Homo sapiens: one gene and its partners. The protein of the gene in region 3 purifies or fractionates together with the protein of the main gene of each other region. This does not show direct contact. Each region holds a gene or a part of one and is shown on either strand. Other genes may lie near its edges. The genes, in order: SLC25A20, NDUFS6 and ARL15.

Region 1 (3,652 bases), on a different chromosome or scaffold from region 3:
CATTTCATCTCTCTTGGACTGGCCCCCTGGTCTCCCAGGTCCTGAATCTTCCTCGTTTACCACCTTGTTTGGCAGGGTATTTATGTATGTATTTGTCTGTCTGTCTAATTATTTATTGGTTACCACATAATTCACTTTCTTTTTTTTTTTCTAGAGATGGGGTCTCACTCTGTCACCCAGGGTAGAGTACAGTGGCAAGGTCATAGCTCACTGCAGCCTTGAACTCCTTGGCTCAAGTTATTCTCCCAACTCAGCCTCCTGACTGCCTAGGACTACAGGCACACACCACCACGTCTGGCTAACTTTTATTTTTTATTTGTTTTTGTAGAGACAGGGTCTTGCTATGCTGCCCAGGCTCATCTTCCCTTTCATTACTAAACTGTGCTAGTGAAAATTGCTGTGCAGTTCTAACAAAAGTCCCATCTTAATACCTGGAAAATATAAAACATTTTCTTAATCACTTGTAATCTTACCCCAAAGAAGGTAGATCACGTTGTGTATCCTGTTTTGTAGCTTTTTTTTTTTTTTTTACTTAATAATCTCTTCTCATGTTATAATGTGATTTCTTGGCCATGTGACTCCATTTATGGAGTTTATAATTTGTCTTCTATTTGGCAGCTTTTGTTTTTTTCCCCAAAATTTTGGTACCTTATAAGTGCCTGAGGTTATTCTTTTTACACCTCTGAGTATTTCCCTAGAATAAATTCCTTGCAATAAATTTTCCACACAAAATATTTCCAGGTGAAAGGGTATGCTACATATTGGCAGATTGCTGGCCGGGTGCAGTGGCTTATGCCTATAATCCCAGCACTTTAATAGGCCAAGGCAGGAGGATCACTTGAGCCCAGGAGTTCGAGACCAGCTTGGGCAACATGGCAAAACCCTGTCTCTACAAAAAATACAAAAATTAGGTGGGCATGGTGGCGCACGCCTGTAGTCCCAGCTACTTGGGAGGCTGAGATGGGAGGATCACTTGAGCCCAGGGGATCAAGGCTGTGATGAGTTGTGATCGCACCACTGCACCCCAGCCTGGGCGACAGAGTGAGACCCTGTCTGAAAAAAAAAGCCCCCAAAACAAAAACAGATTGCCTTTGAGAATGGAAACTGCCTTCAGTTTCTCCAGCATAATAGGAAAATTATTTCTGATAAATGTGGGAGATTTTCTTCCATTTAAAGTTCTCCTTGCTTCAAGAAGAGGTGAAGGAAGCCACAGTTTGGAGGACACACTGCTTTCCTCTTTCAGTGATTTAAAAGGTGGTGGTGTCTGTAAACAGCTTCTGCTTCTGTGATTCCTTGCAGGGCATCACGGGGCTATATCGGGGAATGGCTGCCCCTATCATCGGGGTCACTCCCATGTTTGCCGTGTGCTTCTTTGGGTTTGGTTTGGGGAAGAAACTACAACAGAAACACCCAGAAGATGTGCTCAGGTGAGTACTTACAGGTCAGGAGCACTTGCTGTTCTGCCTGGTAGCGTGACATGGGTTAAAATAAAGAAACTTGGGCAGGGCGCGGTGGCTCATACCTGTAATCCTAGCACTTTGGGAGACTGAGGCGGGTGGATCACCTGAGGTCAGGAGGTCGAGTCCAGCTTGGCCAACATGGCAAAACCCTGTCTCTACTAAAAATACAAAAAAATTAGCTGGGTGTTGTGGCAGGCGCCTGTAGTCCCAGCTACTTGGAAGGCCGAGGCAGGAGAATCGCTTGAACTTGGGAGGCAAGAGGTTGCAGTGAGCCGAGATGGCACCACTGCACTCCAACCTGAGCAACGGAGCAAGACTCCATCTCAAAAAAAAAAAAAAAAAAAAGGACCTTGGTGGGTCTTCCTGGGCCCCTAGGCCTGACTCCTGGGAGTTTTTTTTTTCTTTCTTTTTTGAGACAGAGTTTTGCTCTTTTTGCCCAGGCTGGAGTGCAATGGCACAATCTCGGCTCACTGCAACCTCCGCCTCCCAGGTACAAGCAATTCTCCTGTCTTAGCCTCCCAAGTAGCTCGGATTACAGGCATGCACCACCACACCTGGCTAATTTTTTTGTGTGTTTAGTAGAGAGGGGGTTTCACCACATTAGGCTGGTCACGATCTCCTGACCCCAGGTGATCCACCCGCCTCGGCCTCCCAAAGTGCTGGGATTTCAGGCGTGTGCCACTGTGCCTGGCCCAACTCCTGGGAGTTATACATGAAGGAGTACTTGAGTTTTTAATTTTTTTAATTTTAAATTTTTTTTTGTTTGTTCGAGACTGAGTCTTGCTCTGTCGCCCAGGCTGGAGTGCAGTGGCGCAATCTCGGCTCACTGTAAGCTCCACATCCCAGGTTCACACCATTCTCCTGCCTCAGCCTTCCAACTAGCTGGGACTATAGGCACCCGCCACCACGCCCGGCTAATTTTTTTTTTTTTTGTATTTTTAGTAGAGACGGGGTTTCGCCGTGTTAGCCAGGATGGTCTCGATCTCCTGACCTCGTGATCCGCCCCCTTTGGCCCCCCAAAGTGCTGGGATTACAGGCATAAGCCACTGTGCCCAGCCCAAGTACTTGAGTTTTTGAGATGGGGTCTTTCTTTGTCACCCAGGCTGGAATGCAGTGGTGCAATCACGACTCACTGTAACCTTGAACTCCTGGGCTCAAGTGATTCTTCTGCCTCAGCCCCCCAAGTAGCTGGGACTACAGGCACACACCATCACTCTGGGCTAATTTTTAAATTTTTTTTAGCAATGGTCGGTGTGTGTGTGTCGGGGCGGCGGGGGGTGCTCTCATTATCTTGCCCAGGCTGGTCTTGAACTCCTGGAGCCAAGCAATTCTCTTGCCTTGGCCTCCCACAGTGCTAGGATTACAGGTGTAAGCCACCACACCTGACCAGTTTTTCGTATTTCTTTTATAAGGTAGTATCAATTACTGGAGAGATTTGTAATACCAACCCCAGGAGGCTGTTGAGAGGTCTGAATGCTTAAATATATGTGACATGTCATAGGCAGCACCTGGTGCTGCCCTAAAGACAAGAACAGCCTTGCTTTCTATCACCTGATTGAGAGAAGAGAAGGTTCCAACTTTTGTTGTGCTTCATTTTTACAGCATGCTAATATGACTATAAAGATTTCAGGTATTAGTTTCTCTGTTAAAGTGGAATAAGTTAATGTGTTTTCCTTTAATAAACTTTAAGAAGTTGGATTTGGGTATGAAGAGTCACCTGAGACAGAATTATAGTTCAGAATTTACAAAGTAGTTAATGAAAACAGAGGCTTCTCAGGAGGCAGGGAAATTCTGAGTGGAAATATTGGGTGAAAAGGTATCCACAATCTGAGCTGTGCAGGATGCCAGCCCCTGGGAGGGGCTATAGGCAGTACAGGAGCCACAGAGGCTGGCCTGCCCTCAGATCCAGGAGCTCAAGGGAGGAAGCCCAGGGCGCCATGCGGTTGTATTCTGTCACCACTTCAGGCCACAGCAGGCTGAGTGAGGGTCTAGGATGTAGATGGAGGTGCTTGTAGAGTGAAACTCTATTTCTGGGATCCTTATGACTCTCTGAATGTCCCTAGATTCTATAAATAGCTGCAAGTGTCCTGAAATGTGGATGGGGTTGTTTTGGAGCTGCATTTGCCCATTGATAGTCCTTGTGTCCCACAGACACATGCCCTCTTTGAGCGCCTGGTCTTTTAGCATGTGTG
Region 2 (3,652 bases), about 52 Mb from region 3:
TAACACCACTTAGATATTTAACTTAAAGAAAGTATAATTTTTAAGGTGTGATAATTATATTGTTGTCATGTTAATATATTTTGTTATTTTGTTTTTTTTTTACTTCCCTGTAAGATCTGAATGTTAGTATCTTTTGAAGGTACAGTTAATCCTTGAACAACTCAGGGGTTGGGGGAACCACCCCCAACACAATTGAAAATCTGCATATTATTTTTGACTCCCCCACAATTTACTCATAGCCTGATGCTGACCAGAATGTTTGCCAATAACATAAATGGTCGATTAACATATATTTTGCATGTTACAAGTATTATATATTGGATTCTTATAATAAAGTAAGCTAGAGGAAGAAAATGCAATGAAGGAAATCACAAGGAAGAGAAAATGAACTGACTTTTCATTAAGTGGAAGTGGATCGTCATAAAGGTCTTCATCCTCATCATCTTCACGTAGAGCAGGCTGAGGAGGAGGAAGGGAGGGTTGGTCCTGCTGTCTCAGGGGTGGCAGAGGCGAAAGAGAAGCCACTTAAGTGGACTCACAGTTCACACCTATGTTGTTCAAGGGTCAACTTACATACAGATAAATTTAGACTCAGTAACATGATGTCAAAGATTCACATCAACATTACCAGGGGCTGGGGGGCCGGGGGAGAGGCAGAGCAGAGCTGAGCCAGACTGGCCACTCCGACAACGATTAGCAGAGCTGAGCCGGACTGGCCACTCCGACAACCATTAGAGGAGCTGAGCCAGACTGGCCCCTCCGACAACTACTTCGGTTGGTAATTGTTGAAACTGACTGCCTGGATACATGGGAAAAGGGAATCATTAGACTATTCCCTCTGTTTCACAGAATTTATGTTTTTTAAAAAGCAATTAAAACATCCTGGCTTGGCAAATAATGTATTTGATGATGCTCACGATGGCAAATTTGGGAACTTGGAAAGGGGACATGCCTTGATTTCCTCTGACTCTGTAATGAGCCAGCCCCTTTCAGCTGCCCCTGGGAACAGTCAACGATTAAGTGCCAGGAAGACAAGGCACGAAGAACCGGGAAGCTATGGGAAGTAGAGCGCCGGCATCTGTGCATGTAGAGGGAAGGAACTCAACTCTACACCCCCAGCAGGCCTCTAAGCCCAGGGATGTGGGTCTACCTGCATGTCCCCTCCTGGAGGGCCAGCCCCGCCAAGCATGACACAACCCTCTGCCTCGGATGTTGCTCCTGGGGTTCCCCTGCTTAATGGCACAGCCTGAAACTTTGTGCTCCTTCTACAGCGTCCCCGCCCCAGAGTGGAAGCAGCAACAGGGCTCATCACAAAGTCACTCATTTCTGGAGACTAGAGGCCCATTCAATGCCACACAGTCACAGAGAACACACACGCAGTGGGAGGCAGGGCACCACTCTCCCTCACAGATATGTTTCGGAAAGGTTTATTTTTCAAGAGGTTCTGTCAGTTACAGATGACCATTGTGTAAAGCTTTTCCTTGAAGATCTATTTCCAGAAACACAGTAGGAAGTTAGTGGAAAATGAAGCCACATTAAAGCAGAGGCCTGAGCCGTGTGGCGCCGCCCAGGTTGTTCCACACGCTCCAGCAACACAAGCCTCTGCTGCCGGCCCGGCGGCTCGCCTTGTCGCAGCGCCTTACAGAGGGCTCTGGAGTGAGCGATGTTCTGCTCACCCCTGCTGCAGGCGATGCAACTAACCATACAAATTAAGCCTTATGGTGTAAATAATATGGTGTCTGCCTAAGTGACAACGTGTCACAAAGGCCGCACTAACAAACTGCCAGGCCCCGATCACGGCAGTCAAAGAGACCGGCCACCTCCCTGCAGGGAGGGCTGCTGACGCCTCGACACTGGCGACTGACGCGGGATGCCCTCCCGTCATTTAGTGTGCGCAGCTCAAGGGTGACCCTGACCGCCCATCACCAGCAAACGTCTGGCTCCAGGAGCTCAGTGCAACCGCAGGAATACAAAGAACCAGCAGTGAACACACCCAGCCACGACACAGAGCCCGGCTCCGGGTTCACACGGCCAAGCTCCGGCAGTGAACACACCCAGCCACAACACAAAGCCCCGCTCTGGGTTCAGACTCAAGGCTCCATTCTCACCTGCTTTCACCTGGGGAAAGGTGAGAAAAACTGAAGAGCGCTGCTGCACTTCACGAGGGAATCAAGGGAGAACCGTCACAGCAGCCCGCACGCCATCTCTTGTTAAGCACACGGCACATCATACACAGTGAAGTGTCCAACCTCTGTAAAATGAGTCCCTCGCCCGTCACTAATGTAAAAAATAGGAAACACTCTTTCCATTGACCTCTTGATGATCAAATGATTGGGCATAAAGATATGTAGGTTTAAATCTTTAGGAGTCAAAGTCCTATTGTGTCAAACTGAGATTACATCTATTAAAGATAAAACATAAAATATGTGATTCTGTGACACAGCATCAAAACCAACGCAGAAGGGAAAAGTCCACCAGCTGGATCATCGACACTGTAGAATACCGACCCCATTCATGGACATTTAAAATAAAAGTTTAAAATAAAGTAAAAGCTCAGTTCAATTATTTAGAACATCAGGCATTCTGAACATGAATGCCAATAATTATTTAAGCTAAACGTGTGTATACATGTCTATATAAGTATATAATTCTTAAATCACAGGCAAAACTGAAGTTTTCATTCAAATTAATTTTTAAACTAAGTAACTTTATAGAAAATGCTCTAAAAACCACAATTGAGCTGTCTGTACAACATGTTCAAACTTGCTTTGAGAATGTTGGAATCCAGTGACTAATTTTGCCAGTGCCTTGGAAGAGAAAGAACCACAAGACACAAAGACACAATAGAGAAGCAAAGACGAAGCTGGGGAGCTGCATGAGGGAGGAAATAAAGCCCATCTCGCCAGCTCACAAACAAAGCCACCAGCATGTGAACCTGGGGCTCGTGAATTCACAGTTCCAACTATTTTCCTCTGGGTCCTGGGATAAATAAACCTCACTTTATAACCATTATTTCTGACAGTCCAAGCCTTTCTAAAGGAAGCAAAGACCCACGGTTCTTATCCATCCAGAAGATTTCTTTTAAAATCCGATTGCCTTCACTCCACTATAAAGATGGCGTATTTGGGAGGGAAGCTCAGGAGGAGGAGCATGCAGAAGCGGGAAGCCACACAAAAGCTCTGGAGAGCAGCCATGGCGCACATCGCACCGCCCGCGTCTCAAACACCCCCTAAAGGACGCCCAGGTTGCTTCAAGACAAGAGAGACTCAGGCAAACCTCCCCTCTTAAACCCTCTAAGGATGAACCTGGAAGCAAGCACAGAGCTCCACCTCTGCCACCAACCAGATGACCTGCAAAGGCGGAGGGTGGAATTCCGAGGCCCCTCAATTCAATCTTCCTCTCACGGAGGACCTTCTCAGCCACCACTGTCTGGCTGGGGGCCTCACCCTAGCACCCATCCCCGACTCCCAGTCCTGTCTCCCACCTGGAGCTCCAGCGGCACCACAAGGGCACTTTCACAGCTCCCTCCTGGTGACGCCACCTCTTCCTCCTGCCCCCCAAGTCCTAGGAATAGTGGCTGCTTCCTGCAGCTACTGACCCCTGGGTACCTCAGCACTCCCTCTCAGCTCTCTGGTGGCATCCCTCCTGTGAC
Region 3 (3,752 bases):
AAACAGGCGACACAAACGTAAACAGAAATCTGGGACTCCCAAATGCTAAAGTTGAAAGGAGTTAGTCTGAAAACACCAGTTCTACTCAGCGTTTATTTTTCATTTGAAGATAGTGGAAATCGTAGAAATCATGGACAATACAAGTTGGTCTTGCCTGGTAAATGTCCACATGAATCTGTTAGCCTCTAAGTACAGGTACAGTATTTTTTTAATAGAAAGACAGGGCAATATGGCAGTTAATTAGCAACCAATACTGTCAACTACAGTGGATACAAAGTTTTATCATATAAATTAATTGCCATTACAAAAAGGCAACTGCTTTAGCTAAGAAGGTACAAAAACTGGAAACGTCCATAAATATTACAAGAAGCTAGGTGAAGAAATACATAACAGACTGTTTTTCCTATATAATATTTGAATATGCAAACCAAGACACCTGTGGCACTTTACATGAAAGTAGGAAAAGGGACTTACACTCCCACCCCCAGCCATCCCACCCACCCCACCACCCACCCACCCATCCCCACCCGTTCAGGCCCCACCCCGCCCCCACGTGGATTTCCAAAACATGGCAAATTCTAGGGTTACAAGGACAGGATGCCGCGCGGAAGCAGCAAGACAGCGAGCTCCGACCTGCTAGACAAAGAGGGAGCCTTATTGACAGTTGTAAAGCATTAGGCGTCAGACAGAAACTTGTCAAAAACAGCTGTTGTTGGGTACTGATTGATAATGTTTTCATTCTGACGGCTGAGACGCTGCAGACAGTCGTGGGTTTGAGGAGAGGCCCATCACTGGCGCACACATGAACACACACACGCAGACCACGGGAAGTCATTTAACAGATGGCTTAGGAGCACTCAGCCACGGTGTCTTAAAAAGACAACATTCTACATTTAATGAACTTGCAGGGAAAGCAAGGCCTAATAATCATTTATTTTTCATAGAAGATGAGCACAACAGGACAAAATAAAAACAGGAATTGTGTAACTGGTCATCGGAATAAAAGTTTTGTGCTGCTCAGGGATTACACAGTGTTAAAAATATTCAAGAATGCTGCAGACAAAATTGTATACGAATCACTATGTATCCTTCCTGATTCATGACATTAAAAAAAAAAAGCTTAAAGAAGTGTTTGATGTTTCAAAGGTAATGATTTCATTACAATCTACTCATAAGATTAAACCACAAAAACTACATTTAAATGGCATTAAGGGTCTGAAGTCTATCTTCTGGAGAATTACCAGGTATTACATCATTCTGTAATATAGTGTGAGTCTGTGGTATTTGGGTATCAGTCCATTTTACTTAAAATTACAAACATGTTTTTACACTCATGTGCAGGGAGCAGTTTTTTTTATCATTTGGCCACTTAGTATTTTAAGTGGTCAAAGTCTACAAAGTATGCCAAAGAATATTTCATCTGTGAACCTCAATATGCATAGATTTTTTTCCTGATTTAGAAAAGATCAAAGGTGCTAAACCTTAGTAAAACTGTACATTTATCCCTATGCAATTTTGTCATTTAAATTAAATGGAAAAAAAACTAGTTCCAAAGACTGAATATGAGTCCCAATATTATTTATTTGCTGCAGCCCCAGCACAATTTTAAGGGCACATTGAAACCCCTGAAAATAGAGGTTTATAATAGAAATACTGATAAACCTTTAACTACTAGAGGAAGGCATTAACAGATTCCAATAAACTACAGTAACACGTAATGAATGAATATATAGATGATTCTGTCTTTGTTATCTTTGTCAAATCCATGCCATCTTAAACCCTAACCAGTATAAATTATACTTTTTCTGGCTGTTTTTAAAATTTTTATCTATTATTTTAAAAATTATTTTCTCTATTTTAATCAAACACTTGAAGTTTTTAGAAAAAGATACCTATGTTACATTGCAGCTTCACTTTATGCAGGCTCATCATTCCATTAAACAATATTTGAAGACTCGAATCAATCAAATACAGTCTGTGATGCATGCATTGTACCTAAATTTCCTCTAACCACTCTCAGAAACTGAAACAATGTCTTTGCTCTTAAAAGAGAAGAGACTTCAGATGTAATCAAGAAAACATTGTGTAACTTGCCTCTAAGCTCTTCAGAGCCAATTTTACTATGGCAGGATATTCCTTCCTGATAAGGTGATTAATGAAGTTTTTGGTGCTCACTTTTCTCTCATAGTCTATAAGCTCAGTATACCAAAAAAAAAAAAAAATTAGATAAAATAAAACAAAACCCCCAATAGGTCTTGAAAATAATATAAATATTTTGTGGAGTCCCAGTCACATAATACTCCACTCCCAAACCCAGAGAAAATGATCAAGGTCTTGTGAGTCTTTCTGAGTCCTTCAAAAGGGATTTGATTTCCATAAGCCATGAATTCCATCCGTTTCAGCACAGAGTATAGAAGAGATGCTTAGAACAACAGAAGGAAGAGACATGCGGGGAAGATAATTAGTGGTAAACAGAGAATAAATTCTCTCTCAGTAGTGTGTACTTGACGTTAATGCCGATGATAATTCATCTGATCTACAGAATATTCACTTTAATAGAGAGATGAGAGTCTGAAATGACCAGAGGAAAATAGATACTGAAGCCAATATAGTCTTGATACCAAAATAAAATTAAAATGAGAAACTAACATGATAGGTTCAAGGCCTTTTGGGAGCCTGTTTTCTTTGCCAGATTTCACATTCTTACAGCTTCATGGTCTTTTTCTTCTAACAAATTAATCAGCTGAGAGAAGCTGTCTTTCAGTGCATCCATGTCATCCAGTGAGCAGGGCTGTAGAATCCAGCGTTTTCCACGTGCAAGTGGTTCAAGTTCAAAATATTTTTTGATCTTAAGAGGAAAAAATAAAGATAAATAGGTTATTAATTATATCAGAAACTTTCTCATATCAAAATTCTGAGGGATAAAGTAGGGGAATTTCGAGGCGGAATTTATACGAACTGTGATGCCTACAACTTTGCAATGTGGATGCCTGTCCGCAGCTGTTGTTATAATGTGGGTTATATATTGTGACCTGGGAGTGTTTTCTTTAGAGGTGAATGATCTGCGTGCAAGCCACCATTCCACCCATACATTTAGCAGCGTGGGAGGTCTGATGAAGTCAGAGAAAAAATTATTTGCACTATGGCACCAGTCAAGATACATTGCAGACACCAAAAGATTCGATTTCATCAAAATAATTAGCAGAGTAGCTTTCACTATCTCACCTTGCCAACTTATTAAATGGGTGACGACTTACAGTAGGTACTATATTGATTACTCAAGACTCAATTATTTTGACCATCAAGCACATAACACAACAAAAATCTAATTTAAATAATCTTCTTCTCTTTCTCTCTCAAATTTCTAGTATCTGCTTCTGAGACATGAGAGCGTGTTTTCTAGGAAAGAGGATAGAAACTGCATGTATGTATGTTTGTATGCATATACACACTTACATAAATTTACATATATGCGTAAAATCTTCTACCTTTTTTTTTCTTTTTCAGTCCTGAATTTTCTAGGATGGAAAAAGCAAGAACTTATAATAGGTATGTGCTGAAAAACCTGTTCAATTAATAACCAGTCACAAGTCACTCTTACTATATTGGCCAGCATACTGACTAACGGCATTTAGTATTACCAATTCCTGGCTGTGAATAAATAGCAAATTATTATGGCTTCTAGAAGTATTGATGATCTTCTCTCAAAAGGTATCATAAAACACAAAGTTCAGGAAGCTCCCGACTCATAC

Evidence for each region.
Region 1: the proteins of ARL15 (region 3) and SLC25A20 purify together in Homo sapiens (affinity purification with mass spectrometry; 2 studies listed by BioGRID and IntAct, with this or other methods). This does not show direct contact.
Region 2: the proteins of ARL15 (region 3) and NDUFS6 purify together in Homo sapiens (co-immunoprecipitation; one large-scale study listed by IntAct). This does not show direct contact.

What each region holds. Positions count from the first base shown.
Region 1 is NC_000003.12:48,881,772-48,885,423, reverse strand, and holds part of SLC25A20 (mitochondrial carnitine/acylcarnitine carrier protein), read left to right. Parts: intron 1-1,299; coding exon 1,300-1,427; intron 1,428-3,652. UniProt on the Homo sapiens protein: Mediates the electroneutral exchange of acylcarnitines (O-acyl-(R)-carnitine or L-acylcarnitine) of different acyl chain lengths (ranging from O-acetyl-(R)-carnitine to long-chain O-acyl-(R)-carnitines) with free carnitine ((R)-carnitine or L-carnitine) across the mitochondrial inner membrane, via a ping-pong mechanism.
Region 2 is NC_000005.10:1,807,805-1,811,456, reverse strand, and holds part of NDUFS6 (NADH dehydrogenase [ubiquinone] iron-sulfur protein 6, mitochondrial precursor), read right to left. Parts: intron 1-3,652. UniProt on the Homo sapiens protein: Accessory subunit of the mitochondrial membrane respiratory chain NADH dehydrogenase (Complex I), that is believed not to be involved in catalysis. Complex I functions in the transfer of electrons from NADH to the respiratory chain.
Region 3 is NC_000005.10:53,883,866-53,887,617, forward strand, and holds the end of ARL15 (ADP-ribosylation factor-like protein 15), read right to left. Parts: intron 2,849-3,752; coding exon 2,696-2,848; 3' UTR 77-2,695; downstream 1-76.